7 linked regions of the Homo sapiens genome follow. The protein of the gene in region 5 interacts with the protein of the main gene of each other region in a biochemical or structural test. Each region holds a gene or a part of one and is shown on either strand. Other genes may lie near its edges.

What was found.
Region 1: of the proteins of MAPT (region 5) and RPS6KA5, one has a biochemical effect on the other in vitro, tested with the Homo sapiens proteins (one study listed by BioGRID and IntAct).
Region 2: of the proteins of MAPT (region 5) and NPEPPS, one has a biochemical effect on the other in vitro, tested with the Homo sapiens proteins (one study listed by BioGRID).
Region 3: the proteins of MAPT (region 5) and BAG1 form a complex in vitro, tested with the Homo sapiens proteins (one study listed by BioGRID).
Region 4: of the proteins of MAPT (region 5) and F2, one has a biochemical effect on the other in vitro, tested with the Homo sapiens proteins (one study listed by BioGRID).
Region 6: of the proteins of MAPT (region 5) and MAPK9, one has a biochemical effect on the other in vitro, tested with the Homo sapiens proteins (2 studies listed by BioGRID).
Region 7: the proteins of MAPT (region 5) and PTGES3 form a complex in vitro, tested with the Homo sapiens proteins (one study listed by BioGRID).

What each region holds. Positions count from the first base shown.
Region 1 is NC_000014.9:90,847,642-90,851,141, reverse strand, and holds the end of RPS6KA5 (ribosomal protein S6 kinase alpha-5), read left to right. Parts: 3' UTR 1-3,281; downstream 3,282-3,500. UniProt on the Homo sapiens protein: Serine/threonine-protein kinase that is required for the mitogen or stress-induced phosphorylation of the transcription factors CREB1 and ATF1 and for the regulation of the transcription factors RELA, STAT3 and ETV1/ER81, and that contributes to gene activation by histone phosphorylation and functions in the regulation of inflammatory genes.
Region 2 is NC_000017.11:47,583,108-47,586,607, forward strand, and holds part of NPEPPS (puromycin-sensitive aminopeptidase), read left to right. Parts: intron 1-2,392; coding exon 2,393-2,593; intron 2,594-3,040; coding exon 3,041-3,137; intron 3,138-3,257; coding exon 3,258-3,291; intron 3,292-3,500. UniProt on the Homo sapiens protein: Aminopeptidase with broad substrate specificity for several peptides. Involved in proteolytic events essential for cell growth and viability. May act as regulator of neuropeptide activity.
Region 3 is NC_000009.12:33,258,209-33,261,708, reverse strand, and holds part of BAG1 (BAG family molecular chaperone regulator 1), read left to right. Parts: intron 1-539; coding exon 540-622; intron 623-2,675; coding exon 2,676-2,789; intron 2,790-3,500. UniProt on the Homo sapiens protein: Co-chaperone for HSP70 and HSC70 chaperone proteins. Acts as a nucleotide-exchange factor (NEF) promoting the release of ADP from the HSP70 and HSC70 proteins thereby triggering client/substrate protein release.
Region 4 is NC_000011.10:46,736,213-46,740,006, reverse strand, and holds the end of F2 (prothrombin preproprotein), read right to left. Parts: intron 960-3,794; coding exon 889-959; intron 743-888; coding exon 599-742; 3' UTR 501-598; downstream 1-500. UniProt on the Homo sapiens protein: Thrombin, which cleaves bonds after Arg and Lys, converts fibrinogen to fibrin and activates factors V, VII, VIII, XIII, and, in complex with thrombomodulin, protein C. Functions in blood homeostasis, inflammation and wound healing.
Region 5 is NC_000017.11:45,985,054-45,988,553, forward strand, and holds part of MAPT (microtubule-associated protein tau), read left to right. Parts: intron 1-1,986; coding exon 1,987-2,042; intron 2,043-3,500. UniProt on the Homo sapiens protein: Promotes microtubule assembly and stability, and might be involved in the establishment and maintenance of neuronal polarity.
Region 6 is NC_000005.10:180,250,584-180,254,083, reverse strand, and holds part of MAPK9 (mitogen-activated protein kinase 9), read left to right. Parts: intron 1-3,500. UniProt on the Homo sapiens protein: Serine/threonine-protein kinase involved in various processes such as cell proliferation, differentiation, migration, transformation and programmed cell death.
Region 7 is NC_000012.12:56,681,785-56,685,284, reverse strand, and holds part of PTGES3 (prostaglandin E synthase 3), read left to right. Parts: intron 1-3,500. UniProt on the Homo sapiens protein: Cytosolic prostaglandin synthase that catalyzes the oxidoreduction of prostaglandin endoperoxide H2 (PGH2) to prostaglandin E2 (PGE2).

The sequences.
Region 1 (3,500 bases), on a different chromosome or scaffold from region 5:
GGCATGAACCCGGGAGGCGGAGCTTGCAGTGAGCCGAGATCACGCCACTGCACTCCAGCCTGGGGGGCAGAGTGAGACTCTGTCTCAAAAAAAAAATAAAATAAAAGTATCTTTACCCACTTCTCTGTAGTGAATATTGACTAGCATTTTGAAGTAGGAACTAACAAAGTATAAAATTAAGTAGATTTTTTATATTTATGGGTATTGTTCTAGTACAAATTTATGGTGTACACTGTCGGTCTGAGTGTGGGTTTAAAATATATCATTGTGCTTGGCTAATTTGTAGAATGTCTTATTTGAATTGACTTCATTTATTTCAGAGGAATGCATAGATGATCAGATCAAACTGTCGTCATAGCAGTGTTTTCAGCACATACGAGAATCTTAGAGTTTAGGAGCCTTAGAGCTCACCCAGTGCAATTTCCTGCCGGAAGCAGATTCCTTCCTGGTGACCTCACCAACAGGTGCTTGTGCAGCCTTTTCCTGAAAACTTTTTGGGAAAGTGGGGGCTGCTACCTCACTACTTTGATGTGTACCTTTTGTTCAAGAACTTTCTAAAACTTGGAGCTAATCATGGGTTATTTCAGAAGATGTAAGCATTTTAAGTTTTTTATTGAATTCCATCCTTATTTAAAAGGCCTGGTTATGTAATATTTTCTGTTTTTTTTTTTTTTTTTTGTATGGTTTCCCACATTGATTAGGTTGTTTTCTTCATTTTCTTAATAGATTAAAAATACTTTCTTCTCTTTCTATTTGTGTCTTCTTCCATTTAGTATTTATGGGAGGGAGCAAGAAGGGAAAGGATGTCTATTTTTAAAATTGACTACAATCATGACTGTTCTTCTTGTCATTCTGTAGCAGCTGGATTTATTACCATCTCTTATTTAAAGGTCCTTCAGAACACGTTGAAGCAGTTCATTTCAGGTCAATGGCTGGTAAGCAATGTCAGGACCTCTGGGGAAGGAGAAGCTGACGGGATCCCAGAGGAAAGAATTGAGGTTGTTTGCTCCCTTGTAGAAAGCCCACAGATCCCTTCCCAGACTAGAAAAAAAGTGCCAGAGTGTCCTGAAACTTTCCTTCTAAGGCACATACTTCAAAGAGACTGGGGATTCCTTTGTTTTAAATATAGGTGGGGTCTCACAGTGTTGCCCAGGCTGGGCTCAAGCGATCCTGCCACCTGGGCCTCCCAAAGTGATGGGATTACAGGCATGAGCCACCATGCACGGCCATGGAGATTCTAATGTGGTGCCAGCTGCCAGGTAAGAAAGCTGTGAGACAATGTGTTGATTTTCCTTTACTACGTCAGGTTTGAGGACATCATCTAGCATCAACGGGTAACGTCACCCTTTGTTCCATCTTTGGGAAATAATAGTAGTAGCTTGTTACTGTTAGCTGACCCCTACATTAGCATCAATAAAGTAAATCCCTTTAACTTTCCTTTTGGCCTTTCCTTTCTCTCTCTCTGCCTCCCCACCAGCCCCGACTCTCTCCTGTGTGCGTACACATCCACACACACCTCCATGGTATTCCTTCTTTCTCCCACCTAAGGGAAGCTGTGCCCGATCTTGCTGCAGTCCAGGTCACCGTACTGAGATGAGTCAGCCACAGACTCTAAACACTAGCAGCGATTAGCCGTATGTAGCCACCAAGTGCACTGTTTTAGACAGGTTTACACAGCTCTTTGCTGTCCACTCATATCAGCTGTGTAGTAGCCCAAGGCAGCCTGTCAGGCAGAAGAATTACCAACCAAAGTGGATCTATTCATAAGATAAAAGATCCGGAGTCCGTGCCCTCTTAAAAAACTTTTGTCTTCAGACATATGGGTGCGTGTTCATCTCTGGCCAAAACTTTGTTTCCAGTTTCAAAGGGCTGGTTGCGAAGGTGGCCTTGTAACCTTTCTGTTGCCGGCTCTGTTAGTTGCCTGATAAGCAGTAGCTAATTCATCCTCCTCAGAATTTGAGAGTGGCATCTATTAGATTCAGACCACCAAGGTGCCTGCGCGGGCTCTCCTGGTTACGACTGAGTCCCCTTTTCTCATCTGTGGGGTGAACGCTTCTATTTGCAGAAATTTGCTTGCATCTTTTTCCTTTTATTTATTATTACTTTTTAGAGATGCGGCCTTGCTCTGTTGCCCAGGCTGGAGTGCGGTGGACTCTTTTCTTTTGTTGATCTTTGCCATCCTCTGCCTGGCTTAATGAGGTTCTTTCCCTGCGTATTTATGTCCCAGGAGCTCACCTTCCCCCTAGGTTTTTAAGAAGGAAGCAGAAAATGTTACAAAGTATAAGGGATTCTATGAAGTCCATAGATAGGATTTGCTTTGGGAGTAGATGATTTCTTCTTATTTTGGTGTAAACATCAATTTGGATGGCAATTAGAATGTCTTTAGCCTCTTTAAAAAGCCCTTCTGGGGCAAACCTTTGCAAGTCACTCAGCTGGCATGTAATGAGATTTTTATTTGCATGGCTTTTTTTTTCTAAGTCTCTCTAGAAGAACATAAGGACATTCTGAACATGCAAGGAATACAGTTATTCTCACATCAAGGATCAATTTTATTTTGTATCTTCATTTTATGTCATTTTCCTTTATTTTATTCACATTAATCTAGCATTAATTCCCCCCAGAGGGAATGATATTTTTGGTTGCTGCCACCTGTGTTATTAAGTGACAGCTTTTCTTTATCTGCTTTTCTGAATTTCATATTTATATACTTTATTGTAGTTTTTTAAAATCTATTCTAGCTGGGCTAGAATCTTCCAAGTATTAATTCATAATGAACTTCCCTCTTCTGGAATTGTTTAGGAGGGCTAATGTTCCATGTTCCCTTCGTTGCTATAGATATGAAGTTATTTCGATGTTCTTTGAGTGCTTTATTATAGCGATAACTGGTACTGCCTTTGATTAAAGGTGAGCTATATGGAGTTAAGCATTTTTATACTAGTAACTATTTATTGAGAATTTTCAGAATTCTATAGCTACTTGTCTTTAACAGTTATAAGAGGCATGTATTTTTTTTTCCTTCATGGTCTGGAAGTTAGTTTTCTCTTTGTTTGGGTAGATCGGAATGAGTTGTTGAGCTGTGTTGAAAACACACATGAATCAAAAAAGCAGATGTATTGTAGAAATGTGATGTTTTCATGTTTCGGGAATTTGACCGGAAAGCTTTATGTATGGGTTTTATTTTTAACAAAGCAGTAAGGGCTTACTTTTTACCAACTTGTGTGTGTGTAAAGATGTATTTGTTCAAGCTTTAAGAATAAACCTGTCAATGTACAAATGCCTGATATCTGACTTGGACTTGTGGTTTGTTTGTTTGTTTGTTTGTTTGCTTTTCGGGGCGTGGGGGTAGGTATGTTGGATCTTGGAAATAAGTGAGAGTGTTAAAGAAGCACAACAATCTGTATCAGTGAATTTACATCTTAGAAGACTCACATTAACTTATGCTTGAATGAAAACCGTGTGTGGATAACTGAATGCAGCGTTTTCTGAACTGCCCTGAAGGA
Region 2 (3,500 bases), 1.6 Mb from region 5:
AAAGTGCTGGGATTACAGGCATGAGCCACCATGCCCAGCCAAGACCTCTTTTTCTTGATAGCTTTATTTTTGGAGGATTTTCTCTTTGTCAAATTCCTCGTTAAATACATTTATAAGATTATCTACTTCTTTTAATTTAGAGAGGTAAATTGACAAGTTTAATAGATTTATAGTAACTAAAAGCAAAAGGTCTTGGGCTGGATATGGTGGCTTACACCTGTCATCCCAGCACTTTGGGAAGTCAAGGTAGGCAGATCGCTTGAGGTCAGGAGTTGAAGACCAGCCTGGCCAACATGGTGAAAACCTGTCCTTACTAAAAATACAAAAATTATCTGAGTGTGGTTGCACACACCTGTAGTCCCAGCTAGTTGGGAGGCCGAGGTGGGAGGATCACTTGAACCCAGGAAGCGGAGTTTGTAGTGAGCTGAGATCACACCACTGCACTCCAGCCTGGGTGACAGAGCCAGACCCTATCTCAGAAAAAAAAAAAAGAAAAAGGTCTTGACTTATTAAATGTCATAAGAAAGCCAGGTACAGTGACTCTTGCTTGTAATCTCAGTGCTTTGGGAGGCTAAGGCAGGAGGATTGCTTGAGGCCAGGAGTTTGACACCAGTCTGGGCAACATAGTGAGACCTCATTTCTACAAAAGATTTAAAACTTAAAAGTTAGCCAGGTATGGTGGCACGTGTCTGTAATCCTAACTACTTGGGAGGCTAATGTGGGAGGATCTCTCGAACTTAGGAGTTTGAGGCTACAGGGAGCCGTGATTGTGCCACTGTATTCCAGCCTGGGTGACAGAACAAGACCCCATCTCTTAAAAAAAAAAAAATAGGCCAGGCATGGTGGCTCATGCCTGTAATCCCAGCACTTCAGGAGGCTGAGGCAGGTGGATCATTTGAGGCCAGGAGTTCGAGACCAGCCTGGCCAACATGGTGAAACCCCATCTCTACTAAAAATACAAAAATTAGCCAGATATGGTGGCAGGCACCTGTAACCCCAGCTACTTGGGAGGCTGAGGCAGGAGAATTGCTTGAACCTGGGAGGTGGAGGCTGCAGTGAGTTGAGATCGCGCCACTCCACTCCAGCCTGGGTGACAGAGCAAGACTCCATCTCGGGGGAAAAAAAAAAAAAAGGTTGCAACAGAGCAAGACCCTGTCTCTTATGTTTTTAAAAAGTTAAAAAAATTCAAAAGATGTAGCTGCGTAATGAAGTATATTTAGGTCTCTGGCTGTTTGTATTCTTGGAATGTATTCTCTTCACCAGTGTTATTGATCTCATTCATGAACAGGGTAAGCATTCCCCACTTGAAGTGTGTTGTCTAGGACTGTCTTGTGTGGGGAACTTGGAAAAACCTGCTGCACCTGAAAATAACTCTTTTATGTATTTATTGGGGGAGAGCATCCCATAAATAGAATGTCATTCTCTTCTCACATATTCTTAGAAGAGGAGGCTAATATATTAAACGGAAATATTCATTCACACTTTAGTATGAGTGAATTTATCAGTGTGTTCTTGAATAAGTCTTCCTTGGAAGGAAGAATAGAGAGAGCTTGAGGAAACAGAGCCTGAATAGGAAAAAGAGGGAGAACACCAAAGGAAATTAGGGACTCCAAAGGTAAAGTTGAAATTTCTTCACAAATAAGCTTAGAGCCAACTTTGGTAGAGAATGCCCTCGATCTAGAAGTTTGTATCCTTTGAAATGGGAGATTCTACAATTATATTATATTTATTTATTTTTGAGAAGGAGTCTCGCTGTGTCGCCCAGGCTGGAGTGCAGTGGTGTGATCCCAGCTCACTGCAAGCTCCGCCTCCCTAGTTCACGACATTCTCCTGCCTCAGCCTCCCAAGTAGCTGGGATTACAGGCACCCCCCACCATGCCTGGCTAATGTTTTGTATTTTTAGTAGAGATGGGGTTTCACCATGTTAGCCAGGATGGTCTTGATCTCCTGACCTTGTGATTCGCCTGCCTAAGCCTCCCAAAGTGCTGGTATTACAGGCGTGAGCCACCGCGCCTAGCCCCTATTTTATTTTTATTAATAGTCATTTTCTCCTAAACTTATGTCAGTTGAAAAGTATGAAGCCCTTAACTTAAATCATCCCAATGCCTGGCTTATAATAAGTATTTGAGAAAAGTCCATTCCTCTTTTCTTTCACAGGTCCTTGGTAGTTTTAACACTTCAGCCTCCAGCTTCTTAGTATGAGTGTTTTATCAGACCACTTTCCTTCTTAAAGACAGCATAAAAGCACTGGATGAATTGGGGTAGAGAAATAAGCCATGCTAGAATAGAAAGGGGTAAAGAGATGCAATAAAGCCTACAGTTTTTGGCTGGTATTTGCTCTATGGTATTAATGTAAACCTATTTAAATTTTTCTTTTTTTTATTTCTTAAAGAATGTAATTGACCGGAAACCATACCCTGATGATGAAAATTTAGTGGAAGTGAAGTTTGCCCGCACACCTGTTATGTCTACATATCTGGTGGCATTTGTTGTGGGTGAATATGACTTTGTAGAAACAAGGTCAAAAGATGGTGTGTGTGTCCGTGTTTACACTCCTGTTGGCAAAGCAGAGCAAGGAAAATTTGCGTTAGAGGTAAATGTACTTGAAGAGGATTGTTCCAACAGTCCATAACTCCAGGTTGGGGAATTTACATTTCTGGTCAATTATTAGTACAGTTATTTATAATTTAATCTGAAAGTTGTGCTACTTGGTTTATTTTTAGTAGAATTTAGGAAATGCCAACCTTGGTGTTTCATTATTTTACAAAATAATAATTAAGAGAATATAAGAGTGGAATTTCTCTAGGGAATGGGTTGGAAAATATGTAGTTATATTTTTCATATCAAGTTATAAATGGATTAAAGTTTGGCCATTGTATTCAAAGTTTGGAGCTAAGGCAGTCTTCGGAGGGTAGGGCTCCTCGGGATTCATTTCTAGTAATTTAAGATACATTGGCTTGCAACAGGATTCCTTTGTGGGTTTCAATATGAATTATAATAACATATTTATTAGATGGTTATTTTGTTTATACTTTTATAGGTTGCTGCTAAAACCTTGCCTTTTTATAAGGACTACTTCAATGTTCCTTATCCTCTACCTAAAATTGATCTCATTGCTATTGCAGACTTTGCAGCTGGTAAAGTAAATTTCATTTTATTGCTGAATTGTAATAACTTTTTAAAATTTTGTGACTTTTGATGCAAGAGTATATATATATATATATATATCAATAAATGTTTATATTTATTTTGTGAAGGTGCCATGGAGAACTGGGGCCTTGTTACTTATAGGTATGTTAATGATGTGTTACCCTGCCTTATCTTTTCAAATCACTGATTTCAAAAGGGCTTCCCTCCTAATCACAGTTGAGTAGCTTCTGCTTTACGATATGGTGTAAATTTTTCTACCTTCCCCCACTTCCGTGCACATTTCAAGAATGCAGATGGACACCCCTCCCTTTGGTGCTACTGTCTGAGGGTGTAAGATTTTAAAGTGAGCA
Region 3 (3,500 bases), on a different chromosome or scaffold from region 5:
ATTTATATTTCATAGTGTAACATATTGTCTTTAATTTTTAAAAATATTTTATTTCTGAATTATAAAGACAATAGAAATTCATGTTTCAAAATAGAGGAATGCATGAAAAAGAAAATGTTCCCCTGGATAAAACCCCTCATAATAACACTGTGTCATCAGCATTCATTGTGGTATTGGGGTTTCCTGCAAAAAATGAGCTTTAATGGCTACTGTAGACCTTAATGCCTACTGAAGACTTTAAAGTCTTCTGTAGTGTGGTTCGTTGGTCCCTGATTCCTGAATATTTGGCTCTTTCCAGTTTCTCACTATTATGAAAAGGTTGCACTGAATATTATCGTATAGTAGTTACTGTGGAGTCGCATGTCCAATTATTTGTTTAGGATAAATATCTGGAAATGAAATTACTGGGTCATGACACCCTCTAAAAAGATACCAGTTCTCATTAGTGAACACACTTGTCTATTTCCTGTATCCTGCTGAAATTTATTTTCAGTGTTGTACAATTATTACAACTTGGCCTACCTTTCTCCTCTTTTTAGGAAAATCTCTGAAGGAAATGGAAACACCGTTGTCAGCACTTGGAATACAAGATGGTTGCCGGGTCATGTTAATTGGGAAAAAGGTAAATTGCTTTTTCCATCAGAAATCCTCAGAATCAAATGACTGAAGTCTTTTATACATGTTTCTGTTTAGAAGACCAAACTGGGGACCCAGATTCTGCATTGATAAAACACCTCTCTAAACAAATACAATCTTTATTGGTTTTACAGGATTACCAGTTTTGTTGTTCTCATACCCTCCTGCTCCTGTTGGTTAGAACTTTTGCTCTAGGAATTAGGAGCGGTTGTGCTGCCTTAATAATATGTTTTTTGTTTTGGTGGTGGAATCTTGGTCTGGTTAAAATGGTGCCTGGGACAGGTCTCATTCACTTGGAGTAGAATTTGCAAGAGTCTTTTGTTAAAATAAACTTGTAGATATTAAGAATAATCACTCTGTTCCAGTTCAGGAGCCTCTCTCCCTTTAACCAACCTTTTAACTAAAATCTCCCACAAGGGAAAACCTTCGACTGGAAAGGAAGGTTCAGACTAAAGAACTGAGGGGAAAAAAAGACAGATGAGGTCAGCAACCCTTAAGGTGATGAGAGAGGGCTGTGGCCAGCCCTGCATTGTGACACAGCAGAATTATGAGCATATGAAGTTCCCTTATTGTGAGTTAGGTGGCTGAGTAGAGAGAGGGCAGATAAACAAAGTGAAGGCAAAAAAAATCTAATCCAGACTTGGAACTGCCAGGAGACTGGAACTCAGGACTTGCCACAAAGAGAAGTGAATAATTTGGGATAGCATAACTAAGCAGAAAGCTGCTAGACCTATCTATCAATTGTTTACCTGAGAGAAGAGGGAAATATTCTAAATTTCTTGCTTCAGGGTCAGGGAGAATGGTGATGGGCAACAGGCAGAACCAAAGAGTCAAGTTTGAAGAAACTATAGGACTTTTACTTGGAGCTGACACAGAGCGTATGGAGCGAAGTGTGAACTCAAGGAAGGCACCATGGCACATGCCTATTGTCCCAGCAAGTTGGGAGTCTGAGACAGGAGGATCACTTGAGTCCAGGGGTTTGAGGCTGCAGTGAGTTATGATCATGCCTGTAAACAGCCACTGCACTCCAACCTGGGAACCGTAGTGAGACCCTATCTCAAAAAAGAAAAAAGTCTGAACTTAAGTCTAATCTACCTCTTTTGGACTGTGTGATCTCATGTTACTTTACTACATTAAGCCTCAGTTTCATCATCTGTAAAACAGCAGTACTTCCCTGATGGAGTTGTGGTAAGGCTTAAAAAATAGGTAAGGTGCTTAGGATAGTGTGTGGCATGTAGGAAGTGTTCAATAAAAGTATTCATCGTTGTTAACCAGCATCACATTAAACAGGAGCGCTCAATTGGAGGCTGCCATTTAGGAATTCCATTTAAAGGAATGGTAGAATTCCACCTTTCTTGCCATTCTGGACTCCTCACAAGTGTTTACTGAAATGTGATTACCCTCCAGGCTTCAGTCTTGGTTGTTGATCAGTATAGGGCTGAGACTGAATCTGGCACTTGGATTGTCTCCATTCTCTGCACCCAAGCTGTCAGGGCCCTCACCAGAATGTTTACCTAACACCTTCTCTCTAGTCTGGAGTCTTTGTAGATGGAAAACTTGATGTATAACCCTTTGACTTGATTTCCAAGAAGCAACAGAGTTAAAACTGTTATTTCTAGGTGAGTGGCTTCATGCAGGTGTGGTCAGGTATTTTTCCTGACAGAGGCTGCTGTTCTTGTTGATTGCTTTTTCTTTTTTCTTTTTTTTTTTTGAGACAGTCTCGCTCTGTCACCCTGGCTGGAGTACAGGTGCACGATCTCAGCTCACTACAAACCTCCACCTCCCAGGTTCAAGCTATACTCCTGCCTCAGCCTCCCGAGTAGCTAGGACTACAGGTGCACGCCAGCATGCCTGGCTAATTTTTTTGTTTTTTTAGTAGAGACAGTGTTTCACCATGTTGGCCAGGCTGGTCTTGAACTCCTGACCTCAAATGATCTGCCCATCTCGGCCTCCCAAAGTGCTGGGATTACAGGCATGAGCCACCATGCCCAGCCTGTTCTTTTTGACTATTGGCTTTATTTTCTTCTTAAACATTTTAGAACAGTCCACAGGAAGAGGTTGAACTAAAGAAGTTGAAACATTTGGAGAAGTCTGTGGAGAAGATAGCTGACCAGCTGGAAGAGTTGAATAAAGAGCTTACTGGAATCCAGCAGGTAACTCTCTTCATGGACCTTAACTTTCTGCCTTCTATCAGAGCTTCCTGGATATAACTTGTGGTTATGGGGACATGTTCTGCAGTCAGACTCCCTGGGTTCAGATCCTGGATTCACCCTTTCTCTTACTGTGAACAAGTTTATCTTTGTCTCAAGTTCCTCATCTGTAAAAATGGAATAATGGTGACATTTCCCTATTAGGATTGTTGGGAGAATTAAATAATGTAGATTGAGCTTGACACATACTAAGTGCTTTATAAGCATTTATTGTCATAGTTATTGTCAAACCCCAGCCAGCATCCATTTATGCTCACAGGAGAGCACCTGCCTTGCTAGGATCATGTATTGTCTGAAATAGAACAAGTAGCTTCTCTCTGGGCTGTTGTAATGTGTTTGGCAAGGCAAATAACATTTTGTTGGTTCATAGAAGGTCCAAGTTGAACATGATAGTGGGGTTGGGGGAGTCATCCTATTCAATTCCTTATATTAGAGATGGGGTACTAAAACCCAGTAAGGATTAGGACTAGCTCAAGACCACTTTTATTTATTTTTCCCTCTCATTTTATAGCATTAATTGGGGTGTGTTTGTGTTTTGGCTTTTTTTTTTTTTTTTTTTTTTTTGATATGGAGTCTCGCTCTGTCACCCAGGCTGGAGTGCAGTGGTGCAATCTCAGTGGCTCCCTGTAGCCTCTGCCTGCCAGGTTCAAGTGA
Region 4 (3,794 bases), on a different chromosome or scaffold from region 5:
ATCATTTTAATGATACAAGGGAAGATGTAGGGAGTTAACTAAAAAAGCACCGTCCTCACTCAATATTTTCTATATTTGAAGTCCTACTTTGAGCTTTCTTAGCCATGTGACTTTGGACAAGGTACTTCTCCAAATCTCAGTTTACTCACCTACCTCTTGTGAGGATTAAATGAGATAATCCATTAAAACCCAGAGGGTGGAACATCTTTAATGCCTGTAAATTCAACCTGCCATCTTTCCTCTCACCTGGCCCTGCTCTGAAGATAGATAGTGGATTCTTTTGGGACAGGGTCTCACTCTGTCACCCAGGCTGGGGTGCAGTGGCTCACTGCAGCCTCCACCTCCTGGGCTCAAGCGATCCTCCCACCTCAGCCTCCCGAGTGCTCGGACTACCAGCGTGCACCAGGTGGTGGATTCTTAAGTCTTCTTTATCCAGTAGTATTACTGGCTCTTCCTGAGCCCAGAGAGCTGCCCATGAATAGCACTGGGAGCATTGAGGCTCGCTGAGAGTCACTTTTATTGGGAACCATAGTTTTAGAAACACAAAAATAATTCTTTCACGGGATTGGTTCCAGGAGCCCAGAATATGAGTGGCCCCCTACTCTCCAAACTGATCAATGACCTTCTGTATCCACTTCTTCAGGCGGAACACATGTGTGTAGAAGCCATATTTCCCATCCCGGTCACAGCCTTCACCCCATGAGACGATGCCCATTTGATACCAGCGGTTGTTAAAGGGGCTCTGAAGAAGAAAGATGAGGTTTCCAATAGAGTCAAGTTCAAGGTCACATCAGTATTCCCCTGCCAGGCAACTGTTTCTAGATACTAGAGTTTCTCCCCACCCCCAGAAGATGTGTTCACCAGGCCCTGGGCTTTAGAGAAGCTTACCTTCATGACAAAGGGTCCCCCACTGTCACCTTCACAGGCATCCCCTCGTTTCCCTTCATCAGGCTTGTAACCTTGAAAGAGAACAGCCGTCTGTGCTCAGGAGCATAGCTCATAGCCCAGCCACGCCCCTTCACGAGACACAGCTGGTGAGAGTCCACTTACCCCTCCAGTCATTCTTGCTGTCCCCACTTCCTCACCCTACCCATCCAATCCTAGCAAATCTTGTCGGCTCTACCTTCAGCATAGACCCCAAATCCAAACCCTTCTCACCACTTCTAGCTCGAGCTCCTGAACCCACTAGTTTCCTTCATTCTTTGCCCACCTACAGTCTATTCTCCACCCAACAGGCAGAATAATGCTTTTAAAAAGTTGGACCAGACCAGGGGAGGTGGCTCATGCCCAAGCCGGGTGGATCACTTGAGCTCAGCAGTTCAAGACCAGCCTGGGCAATATGGCAAAACCCTCTCTCTACAAAAAATTAGCTGGGCATGGTGGCACATGCCTGGAGTCCCAGCTACTCGGGAGGCTAAGAGAGGAGGATCACTTGCGCCTGGGAGGTTAAGGCTGCAGTGAGCCGTGATCATGTCACCACACTCCAGCCTGGGCAACAGAGTGAGACCCTGTCTCGAAAAAATTAATTAATGATAAAAGACCAAGAAAAAAATTTAAATTAAAAATTAAAAAATTAAAAAGTTAGACCTACAAGTCTGATGAGGATAATAATGATAGTTGCTTTTATCCAAATCTCCCCACGTATCCTCTACAAACAATACAGAACAACACTAACAACAGTAAAACCTACACAAAAAAACCACACCTTCACTAGGTGCTGTGGCTCACACCTGTAATCTCAGCACTTTGGGAGGCCAAGGCGGGCGGATCATGAAGTCAGGAGTTTAAGACCAGCCTGGCCAACGTGGTGAAACCCTGTCTCTACTAAAAATACAAAAATTAGCCAGACATGTTGGTGTGCGCCTATAATCCCAGCTACTCAGGAGACTGAGGTAGAATTGCTTGAACCTGGGAGGTGGAGGTGGAGGTTGCAGTGAGCCGGGATTGCACCACTGCACTACCGCCTGAGCGACAGAACAAGACTCTGTCTCGAAAAAAAAAAATTAGCCGGACATGGTGGCATGTACCTCTGATCCTAGCTACGTGGGAGGCTGAAGCAAGAAGAGGATTGCTTGAGCCCAGGAGTTCAAGGCTGCAGTGAGCTATGACTGTGCCACTGCACTCCAGCCTGGGCAACAGAGCAAGACCCTATCTGAAAAAAAAAAAAGCTAGCAAGAGAACAGCAAAGTAAACCAGACAAAAACGTAAGCAAACTTTTTAAGAGAAAAAAGCAGAAATTAATGAACCACAATAGAAAAATAATAGGCCTGGCCGGGCGCAGTGGCTCACGCCCGTAATACCAGCACTTTGGGAGGCTGAGGCAGGCGGATCACAAGGTCAGGAGATCGAGACCATCCTGGCGAACGCGGTGAAACCCTGTCTCTACTAAATACAAAAAATTAGCTGGGCGTGGCAGTGTACACCTGTAGTCCCAGCTACTCGGGAGGCTGAGGCAGGAGGATGGCGTGAACCCGGGAGGTGGAGCTTTCAGTGAGCCGAGATCGCACCACTGCACTCCAGCCTGGGTGACAGAGCAAGACTCTGTCTCAAAAAAAAAAAAAAAAAGGCCAGGCACGGTGGCTCACACCTGTAATCCCAGCACTTTGGGAGGCTGAGGCAGTCGGATCATGAGGTCAGGAGTTCGAGACCAGCCTGGCTAACATGGTGAAACCCCGTCTCTACTAAAAATATAAAAAAATTAGCCGGGCATGGTGGCGTGCACCTGTAACCCCAGCTACTGGGGAGGCTGAGGCAGGAGAATCACTTGAACCCAGGAGGTGGAGGTTGCAGTGAGCTGAGATCACGCCACTGCACTCCAGCCTGGGCGACAGAGTGAGACTCCATCTCAAAAAAAAGAAAAATAATAGGCCTAATAATTTCATAAATCAAATCCCTAGATATTTGTTTTGAGAAAACCGGCAAGCCATTAACTAATTTACTCAAGAAAAATAAGATATTACAAATACATAAAATAAGATACCAATAGAAAAAATTATAAGAGAATACATTGCAGCAGTCAAGAAAGATACAATAATAGACTTGAGCAAATAGGAAAACGTTTCTTATCCTTGGATAAAATGACTCAACATCAAAAATATGTCCATTCTCCCAGTTAATTTGTTGAAGTGTCATAATCCCAATAAAATTACCACCAAGCTTTTTTATAGACCTAGGCATGTTGACACTAAAGTTCATATGGAAAAACAAACATGCAAGAATTGCCAGGAAACCACTGGAAAGAAAAACTAAAAGAGAACATTAGCCTTCCCAGCTATGTACGCTAAAGCCTCTATCATTAAAACAATGTGACGCTGTACACAGACAGACAACAGACCAGGAAAGCCGAGTCGAACATCCAGAAACATACTCATCCTTAAGCATACTCTATCCATAGAAATCTAGAACGTGGGGCTGGGCACCGTGGCTCATGCTGGTAATCCCAACACTTTGGGAGGCCAAGGCAGGAGGATCACTTGAGCCCAGGAGTTCGAGACCAGCCTAGGTAACATAGCAAGACCCCGTCTCTACAAATCAAATCAAATTAGCTGGATGCAGGAAAAAATAAAACTAAAAAATAAAACCTAGGTCAGGTATGGTGGCTCACGTCTGTAATCCCAGCAGTTTGGGAGGCCAAGGCGGGAGACTTGCTCGAGCCCAGCCAGGAGTTTGAAATCAGCCTGGGCAGCACAGGGAGACTTGTCTATATTTCAAATAAATAAATGAAAATAAGATACAATCTAGAATGTGATAAAGGTGAAATCTCAAATCACTAGTTCAAAGATTGATTGATTGAT
Region 5 (3,500 bases):
AGCACTTTGGGAGGCCAAGGCAGGTGGATCATTTGAGGTTAGGAGTTCGAGACCAGCCTGGCCAACATGGTGAGACCCTGTCTCTACTAAAATTACAAAAAATTAGCTGGGCGTGGTGGCGGGCACCTGTAGTCCCAGCTACTGGGGAGGCTGAAGCAGGATAAGTGCTTGAACCCAGGAGGCAGAGGTTACAGTGAGCCAAGATCACACCACTGTACCCTAAGCCTGGGCGACAGAGTGAGACTCTGTCTCAAAAAATAAAATAAAATAAAGTTAAGAGAGAAAAAAATATATCCTATATCCTTTGTTAAATTCCAAAACAGTAGGGGACAAATAACTGACTTGACAGGTTACTACAATATTTCCTGAAATGATGTTTTCTTGAATACTGGCCTACTAGAGGTTCATAGGTGTGTTTGGATTAAAAAAGAGTTCCATGGCCCAGTGACTGGGGGAAAAAAATAAAAGACTAAAGTAAGTTAAACAGGCTTTTCTGCTGCAGGACTTGTCAGAGCCTTTAATGTACTAATGGCCATTGTGACCCTCTGAGAAGGTCACAGAGTGGGTTTCCCAAACTTACTTGATTCTACCTGCTAACATTTCCTGGAGGAAGTTTGGGAAATGCCGATTTAGCAGATTCTTTTGTTGTGCCGTGGATGGTGCTGGTTGATGTGGGCAAAACAAAGAACACGTGAGTCAGATCCGCCTGGGGCTCTTACTAAAGTGCAGGTTCCCAGGTGCCACTTTAGGCTTACAGACCCAGTTGTGGGGTAAGCCTGGGAGTCTTTTAGCAGGTGATTCTGCCACATAGTATAGTTGGAAAACCTCTGGGCATACTCATTGCTGGTCCCTCTAGAAATCCAGGTGACAATAGCCAATGAGAAGCTCCAAGAGACCCAGTTGTCCATGGGGTAGAGGGAATGTGATATTGAAACCAAAGAAGAAAATCTATGATCAGTTTTCAGCAGTGACTGTCAAGAGAAGGAGAAGGGTGAGTTAGCGCTGATGCTGGCTGACAGGTCAGCGGGTTGGTTTCACCAAGGAGTGTGATGAAGGCTGATGTTGTCTGTGGGAATGTATGATGGTAACTGGTTTGTAGCTAATTTGGGGAAGCAGTGAGAATTCGTGCCCTTTGAAGACCAGTAAGTGGCAAGAAACCCACCAGGCCTGGCTCAGGGCTGGGCTGGGCTTGGCTCGTCTCAGAGCAGCTGGGGCTGGTGGCCAAAGCCACCATTAGTGAGGGGCAGGCCCTGGGGGTACAACCAGCAACTAGGGGACAAAGACAACCCTGCCAGCCTCTCCTATTCTGGAGGCGTGTGACCAGAAATGGAGATGGGTTGGTCAGCATAAGATGGCCAGGAAGGTGGAAATCAGGACTGCTGGCAATCTAGCCACATGGGCAGGGGAGCCGGGTGGTTCCAGGCAGTTTCCAAGGCCAAGAGGGTGAGCAGGCACCTCACAGGGAATCAGGGCCAAGCCTGGCTGCAGTGTGGAGACAATGCACCCACCCCCATCCTTGGATCTTGCAGGAGGCTGGGTCCTCACTGAGCTACCAACATCCATGGCCCTGAGGCTTTTAAAACACCCATCCATGGAGTGGGGCTGGTCCCAGTGGGGTGAGGCTGACCCTGGCAGAAACAGGGCAGGAGCCTGTGGGTTAGGGAGACTGCACCTTCCTTAGATAGCCTCCATGCCATCATGTCCCCGTGACAGTTTCTGCTGCGTCCCCTCTGCATGGTCCCACCCTCGGCCAGCCTGCTGCCCCCTCTTGCCAGGTTGCGCTAATCAGTGACCCCAGTGTGCTGTGTTGATACTAACAATGCGAGGCCTAGCAGATTCAAGGGAAAAGAGAACCAACTGGGTTTCCACCAGACCCAACTAAACAAACATGGACCTATCCCAGAGAAATCCAGCTTCACCACAGCTGGCTTTCTGTGAACAGTGAAAATGGAGTGTGACAAGCATTCTTATTTTATATTTTATCAGCTCGCATGGTCAGTAAAAGCAAAGACGGGACTGGAAGCGATGACAAAAAAGCCAAGGTAAGCTGACGATGCCACGGAGCTCTGCAGCTGGTCAAGTTTACAGAGAAGCTGTGCTTTATGTCTGATTCATTCTCATATATAATGTGGGGAGTATTTGTCACTAAAGTACAGCTGTCATTTAAAGTGCTTTGTATTTTGGGGCAGGCTTTTAAAAAGTCCAGCATTTATTAGTTTTGATACTTACCCCAGGGAAGAGCAGTTGGCAGGTTCATGAAGTCATGCTCCTAATTCCAGCTTTCTTAGTGTACTTTCAGTGAGACCCTGACAGTAAATGAAGGTGTGTTTGAAAACCAAACCCAGGACAGTAAATGAAGGTGTGTTTGAAAACCAGCCCTAGGACAGTAAATGAAGCCATCTTCTCACTGCATAAACTGCACCCAGATCTTCGCCCATCCTTCTCAGTATTTCACTTCACCCATTGTTTACTGTCTCAATGACTGGGGAAATGTCTGGGGAAATGCTCCCGTAATTGCACAGTGGCGTTTTTCCTGGAAAATCCCACCATGGCTCTAGATAAGACCTATTTTTCTTAAAGGTATCTAAAATTTCCAGCATAAATTCTGTCTGAAACACCTGAATTTTAATCAGTACTGGAGCCCGGAGGGCATCTCCAGTTGCCACATAGCTCTGAGCATTCAGTGGTGTGTTGAGGGCTGCTCCCGGAAGTGCCTGCAGAGTCAGGGCTCCCCAGCCTCATCTAGTGAGGCAGTGGAAGGGCCTGTGGGGATTTGGAGAGCTGGCCTGGGTCTCTGAAGTGATAGTGACAGCTGCTTGTCAATCACGGTGCACATTTAGTGCTGGGGGCAGGGGGCAGGGAATACCAGCCTCATGCATGCATGCATTCATTTGTTCCTTCCTTCATTCATTCATTCAGTACACATGGGTACAACATCCCTGCCCTGGAGTTGCCCAGAGTCTAGGGAGGGGAAAGATCTATTACCCTGGGCCTCGGCCAGCTGGGGAGTGCTGCTGGTGGAGAGGGGCCGTGTGCAGCGAGGGAAGGAGGAGTCGTCAATACCCCCACCCCAGCTTTGCTTTCTTGTCATCAGCCCCAGGGCCCCAGCCTGTGTCCCTCCTCTCCCATTGCTACTTCATCTCCTGGGTCCTCCTTACCAAGCCTGACCACACAGAGGGCCTTGGCCGCTTCCATGGGGAATTGGAAAGCAATAAGATAGCATCCCCTAGAAGCCCAGTGAAGTCTGGGACAGGACCCTTCTCTGAGCTCTGACTTGCTCTTGGAAACACTTCGAGGCTTAGCCTCCCCACTTTGTTTCCCGAGAGTGTGACCTGTTCCCCTCCAAACACCCCCTTCTCCTCCAGGGCCATGCCCACCCGTCAAAATCCCCCACGGGCAGGACGAACTGTGGGTGTCAGTCACCATCTATCCTGCATCCTGGTTCCAGGGCCCCCCCCAGCCCCGCCTCCATAGGGACAGGCGTGCAGACACCCGTCCCT
Region 6 (3,500 bases), on a different chromosome or scaffold from region 5:
GAGGCAGGAGAATTTCTTGAACCCAGGAAGCGGAGGTTGCAGTGAGCTGAGATAGTGCCATTGCACTCCAGCCTGAGCAACAAGATCGAGACTTCGTCTCAAAAAAAAAAAAAAAAAAAAGAGATTGAAGCATTAAAGGCTGACTGGAAGTACTGAGTGAATGGGTAAATTGTTAAAGAATGGGTGTCTCTTGGACCACAGGCAGCCACAGGTGTCACCTTCTGTAGGTTTTTTCTCTGGGCACCATTTAATTTCTCTGGAAAAGGCCCCTTCAGTCCCTTGGTGGAGGGATGTAAGCCTGGCTGCTGGGGTACAGGGCTGTGCTTCTCATGTGGCAGAGCGCAAACTCACCAGGCAGCCCTGTTGCAGGCAGGCCTCACCGTGCCTTCCCTGTTGGTACCCACAGGACTGTGCATGCGGCGCCTGTGGCCCTGCACCTGGAAGCTGGGCATCAGTTTCTCTGCGTGAAGGGCCAGCAGGAGTGAGGAAGGAGTGGAGCCTCACTTCTGGGATGGAGATGGGGATCTGGGACATCTACTACGTACTTGGACTTTCAATAAAATGAAAACTTCTCCAAGTGCTACCCTTGCCTCTTCTGCCTCCATAGCACCTGCATTTCACTTGCTGAGCCTTTCCTGGGTGTCGTGGCCATTTATAGAGGTTGGCATTTCCTTCGCTCAGCTAGGGCATTTGGGCGGCCCTGCAGCTTCCTGTCCCTGTAGCGTGGGGCTTTTCGTGGGCGGCTTCCGCATGCCACGGTGGGTTAGACAGGCGAGGGACTGGCCGGGAGGAGGCCTGTGCGAGAAGGAAGGGGGAGCAGCCAGAGGAGGCAGCAAATGCTAGCTGAACGTAGTGCAGTCCTGGCCCCTCAGAGGCCTGGTCCAGACTGCGGTGCAGCTCTGAGGGCCTCCGGTGTCACACAGGAACGGGCCTGCCTCAGCATCCCTGCCCGGTCGGCCCCTGGCTGACGGCTCTGTGGGAGGTGTGCCCTGGCAGGGACAGAGGGTAGGTGCAGACACCACACTGGGCCATCTGTCACTCTCACTCCTGTGGCGGGAGACCAAGGAGTGCATTTCCGTGGACCCCACAGTCCACCCTGGCCCCCTCAGCTCTACTTCTCCACATAAGTTGGGAATGGCTTTCCTGTGGCGCCCATGGTTCTCTCTTCCTCAGGGGAAATCTGGAAGACAGAGGTTAGTGGGACACCCTGTAGTCCCTGTCACTGTGGTCTCTCTGCTGGCTCTTTCCCTACCCTTTCCTGTTATTCATACCCTCAGCTCTCACATTGGCAGGCCTCTGTGGCTTGCCTGGCCTGTGTCCCAGGCCTTCATTCCTGAGCCGTCTGTGTCTGGTGGCTCTCAGTGGGCCACAGGGTCCCAGGCCACCCAGTGGCCGTCTCCCCAGTCCTCAGTGTGTAGCCGGAGCGGAGGCGCTTGGCAGGTGGAGTAACGCCCACACGAGTTCCTTGGCCTGTGAGTAAGAGTCGTCACAGTGGGAAGGCCAAATGGAAACCTGAAACTGCCCCCAAGATAGTAAATCAAAAACAAGATCACACCCTGCAGGGCCCGGGGTGGGTGGAGGAGACTAGGGCCACCATGGAAGCCTCAGGGGAGCAGAGACAGTGGTATCTTGCATCCCAGTCTAACTCGTTAGTCCAGCCCTTGAAGAAGCTGCATGGATTCTGGAGAATGACCCCAGACGGCCACAGGCTTACGGCACTGGCAGTCCTGGCCGCAGCTGCTGTGCATGTCAAGGTGCAGTTGTTGCTGGAGCAGATTAATAAGGCCTCAGGTCTGGCATGTTGATGGGGCAAATGCATCCTCCACACTGATTAGAAGAGAGGCCCAGACAGCGCCCACACTGCTGCAGGCTGGACAGCAATGTTCTCTCACAGCCTTGCTCTAAGCCTTTGCTAACGTTCCCACCCTCCCATAACATGGCCGCAAGAGACCTGGCCCAGACTTCACTTATGCCCTGACCCCTGACCCCTGACCCCACGAACCCTGCAAGTGGAGGAGCCCTGAGAGTGTTTGGGGTCTTCGGGTTTCAGTGTCTACTTAGAGCTGTGTCCATTCATCCTCAAGAGTGCCTGGCTGTTCTTACCCGGTGGGTGGCCACAGGTACCTGTGGGGAAGGACCGGCAAGGCCAGACAGTGGACACCTGTCATGATGTGCTCCTTCCTGGGATACCTCTCAAGCAGTGGGTCTGGATCCCAGAGTTGAGCGGGCAGTGGGGGAGGTCAGCACCTGCCCCACTCATGCTGCGGGTGCTGTGGGTACCCTCACTGCTGCCCACAGGGTAGCGTTGGGTTCCAGGCATTTTGGGAGCCAAGCCCCGATCCAGGCGTCACTTGGATCTGTACTTGGCATTTGTCTTCTTTGTTCTGAGTGATTTTCAAGACTTGAAGGGGCAGAACTGTCTTTCCTCTGCTGTCTTGAAATTGAAGTGAGGTGTTGGGAAGCTGCCTCAGGTTGTATTTCGGGGGTGACTAGAGAGGGTCCCAGGGTGCGGGGAGAGCACCTCCTTAGCCACCTCCCCATTGGCCACACAGAGCACCCACACAAGCTTGGGACTTTATCACCACAGTCTTCCAGCAGACGGCAGTAAAGTGTGCTTTTCCTGTTAAATTAGTATGTGATGACAGTTTTTTGACAGATGGCAGTGTCTTCAGATGAGCGTGTTTCTGGCGCACTGGGGTTCACAGAGCTGGCAGGCAGCCCGTGGAGATGGTTCCACTGCTGCGTCTGTCCTTGGTAGAACCAGGCTGTCCTTGTCTTCCTTGCTCCTGCGGCCGTGCTGTTAGTTCTGGGTGGGCTGGGCTTCAGGGCCTGCTGGCTGGGGAAGTGTGTGCATTTCACACCTCAGAAATCAGCCTCCTGGAGAGAAAGTGCCCACTGCACACCCTCTGTGGCCTGAGGAAGCGCCTGTTTCTGCTTCTCCCGCCAGCACCGAGTCTGCTTGCTTTCCATCGCTGCCAAGTGATAGACTAAAAATGGGCATTCATTTTGGGTTTTTAAAGAAGATTTTTGTGAGATTGAGCATTATTTTATCTGTTAGTAATTTATGTTCTAAAATGCCTGTTCTTGTCATACTCTTTGATTTTAAAAAAGGAAACAAGAAGCGAATTCGTTCATTTGGTCTTAGCTCCCTGACTTGGTCCTCACAGCGGAGCGTCCCTGGTTGAATGTGGGCTGCTTCTCCCTGGCTTTCCTTCATGCAGGGAGGCAGCCCGGTTTCTTCCTCTCAGGCCTTTCTGGGAACCGGGGGTGTCTGCACAGTACTCTAAGGTGGAATGGAGGGGCTGGGGGCCTCTTTTTGGGGCCAGGTAGAGATTGTGACTGCATTTTTAAACATTATATGTTTATCATTTAAATCTTACAGAATCTAGGAAGCCTAGAAACAGGTCACTTAGCAGCATGGCAGTGTAATTGTACCTGTTGTCAATGTCGAAATGGCTTCCTGCTTGCCCTGATGACAGCCCCACAGCCTTCACTGAGGC
Region 7 (3,500 bases), on a different chromosome or scaffold from region 5:
TATGCCGTTTAGTAAATTCTTCAGGGACTCTTAACAAGCTAAAGACTTAAATTTTAAAATGAAAGTTGTAAGTCAGTTATTTGAAGTGGAAGAAGCCTTTAATGGGTCGTCATCCAGTCTTAAGAATCTGGCTGATAAGGGTTTATTTTGTTGATAACTTGTTTTAAAAGTGTTTTTTTTGGAGACAGGGTCTTCCTCTGTCACCCAGGCTGGAGTGCAGCTGCAACCTCTACCTCCCGGGCTCAAGCGATCCTCCTTGCCTCAGTCTCCCGAGTAGCTGGGACTGCAGGCAAGCACCACCATGCCTGGCTAATAAATTTTTTTTAAGCTCTGGGGAGAGAGAGATTTATGCTGGGTGTCTTAAAGGCTTGGGAGTGTGTTTTCTCATTTGATTTACTCATTTGCTCTTCAGCGATTTCGTAGTTACATTTCTTTAAATCCTAAGTTATAAAAGTTTGTCTCATAATTTACATAAAAGCTCTTAATTTCGGACCTATCTTGGAGAAGGCTGGGATTTTTAGGACCTTCCCCCACTTAAGATTTTCCGCTTAACTAACCTTGCCAGAGGGTGCTACTTCGCATTTTCTTTTTGAATCATTGTCGTTCGACCGATTAAAAATAGAGAAAAAGTAAAATGTTTTATTTATTTTAGAGATGTTGGAAGTTGTTGTTTTTCCTGTCTAATGTCTTGTATATAATTAGGAAGTTGTCCAGAAACTTGCGTCTCTGATTTTGGTAAAAATCTTCCTGTCATTCAGCTGTGTAGGAACGAATCTCCAAAATAAAATTGTCCATCTTTAGCCTGCAAAACAAATTGTCGTAGTGAACATATGCTATATTGTTAATTGCTATAACTTGAGTATCTGATGGTGGGTGGCCTTTGTTCAGTATTGATTTCCTGTGCACTGTAACCTGGCAACTGGATTTTTAATTTTTCTTCCTGTGTTCAGTTAGACTTTAACTAGAAGGCAGTAGAAACTGGAAGTGAAAAATTTCTTGAGTGCAAGCCAGTGTTTTATTGCTAAATTAAGATTCTCCTGACTAATTGGATTTTCTCGGTTTAAAAATCTACAAGCTATCATTTTTGGGTCTTGTGGTTAGCGATTGTCTCTTTTCAGGGGAAAAAAAACCTTTGTAAATATCAACTGTTCAGAACCAATCTCGCTGTTAAACACCTAAGATCATATTTACGTGAGCTCAAAAAATACTCTAGTGAGCATATTTTGCTATGGAAATAGTGTATTGAACTTTTTACTATTTACTGTGTGGATCGGCAATTACAGTTTTGGGGTTTTTTTTGTTTGTTTTTTTTGTTTTTTTTTTTTTTGAGACGGAGTTTCGCTGTCGCCCAGGCTGGAGTGCAGTGGCGCGATCTCGGCTCACTGCAGGCTCCGCCCCCTGGGGTTCACGCCATTCTCTTGCCTCAGCCTCCCGAGTAGCTGGGACTACAGGCACCCGCCACCTCGCCCGGCTAATTTTTTGTATTTTTAGTAGAGACGGGGTTTCACCGTGTTAGCCAGAATGGTCTCGATCTCCTGATCTCGTGATCCGCCTGCCTCGGCCTCCCAAAGTGCTGGGATTACAGGCGTGAGCCACCGCGCCCGGCCCATAGTTTTGGTTTTTGTTTGTTTTTTTGAGATGGAGTCTGGCTCTGTCGCCCAGGCTGGAGTGAACTGGTGCGATCTCGGCTCACTGCAACCTCCGCCTTCTGGGTTGAAGTAGTTCTCTGCCTCAGCTTCCTGAGTAGCTGGGATTCCAGGTGCCTGCCGCCATGCCTGGCTAATTTTTTTTTTTTTTTTTTTTTTTTTTTTGAGACAGAGTTTCTCTCTTGTTGCCCAGGCTGAAGTGCAATGTCACGGTCTCGGCTCACCGCAACCTCCGCCTCCTGTGTTCAAGCAATTCTCCTGCCTCAGCCTCCCGGGTAGCTGCGATCACAGGCATGCGCCACCATGCCCGGCTAATTAGTAGAGATGGGGTTTCTCCATGTTGGTCAGGCTGGTCTCAAACTCCCGACTTCAGGTGATCACCCGCCTCGGCCTCAGAAAGTGCTGGGATTACAGGTGTGAGCCACTGCATCTGGCCTAATTTTATATATTTTTAGTAGCGATGGGGTTTCACCATCTTGGCCAGGCTGGTCTTGAACTCCTGACCTCATGATCCACGCGCCTCAGACTCCTAGAGTGCTGGGATTACAGGCGTGAGCTACTGCCGCAGCCGGCAATGATAGATTCTAGAATGAGGCTGCTTCCCTGCTTCCTCGGTATACCTTTGTAAATTTTTTTTTTTTTCTTGAGGCGGAGTCTCATTCTGTTGCCCAGACTGCAGTGCAGTGGCGCGATCTTGGCTCACTGCAACCTCTGCCTCCTAGGTTCAAGCGATTCTCCTCTCTCAGACTCCCAAGTAGCTGGGACTACAGGCATGTGCCGCTATGCCCAGCTAATTTTTTGTATTTTAGTAGAAATGGGGTTTCGCCGTTTTGCTCAGGCAATCATCCCACCTTGGCCTTCCAAAGTGCTAGGATTACAGGTGTGAGCCACCACGCCCGGCCTTTTTTTTTTTTTTTCTTTTAAATGGAGACGGGATCTTACCGTGTTGTCCAGGTTGGTCTTGAACTCCTGGGCTCAAGTGATCTTCCTCCCAAAGTCCTGGGTTTACAGGTGTGAGCTGCTGCACCCGATCCTTGGTATACCTTTGAACTTGCGGTTTTCCGGGAATATTTCTTCTTTTCTGAGACACTGTCTCACTACTTTGCCCAGGCTGGAGTGCAGTGGTGTCATCACTGTCTGCAGCCTCAAACTTGGGATCAAGCCATCCTCCTGCCTTGGTCCCCCAGTAGTTGGGACTACAGGTGTGCACCACCACACCCAGCTAACTTAATTTTTTTTAGAGACGGGGGTCTCACAATGTTGCTAAGGCTTATCTTGTCTCAAACTCTTGGGCTCAAGCAGTCTTCCCTCCTCAGCCTCCCAGAGTGCTGGAATTGGAGCCACTTGCTCATTGATATTTTAACTTCACCTTCAGCATATGCTCTTTTCCCATTTTGTATTCTGAAGCTGAATAAAATGTGCTGTTGGGGCTTTTCTGTGCCTCAGGTGCTCATTCACATGAAGCCACACTTCATTTGATAGTGCCAATGTCAGCTGGGCACGGTGGCTCACACATGTAATCCCAGCACTTTTGGAGGCCAAGGCGGGCAGGTCACTTGTGGTCAGGAGTTCCAGACTAGCCTGGCCAACATGGTGAAACCCTGTCTCTACTAAAAATACAAAAATTAGCTGGGCACCGTGGCGGGTGCCTGTAATCCCAGCTACTTGGGAGGCTGAGGCAGGAGAATGGTTTGAACCCAGGAGGCGAGGAGGTTGCAGTGAGCCGAGAATGCGCCACTGCTGCACTCCAGCCTGGGTTACAGAGTGAGACTCTTTTTTTTTGAGATGGAGTCTTGCTCTGTCGCCCAGGCTGGAGTGCAATGGTGTGATTTCGGCTCACTGCAAGCTCTGCCT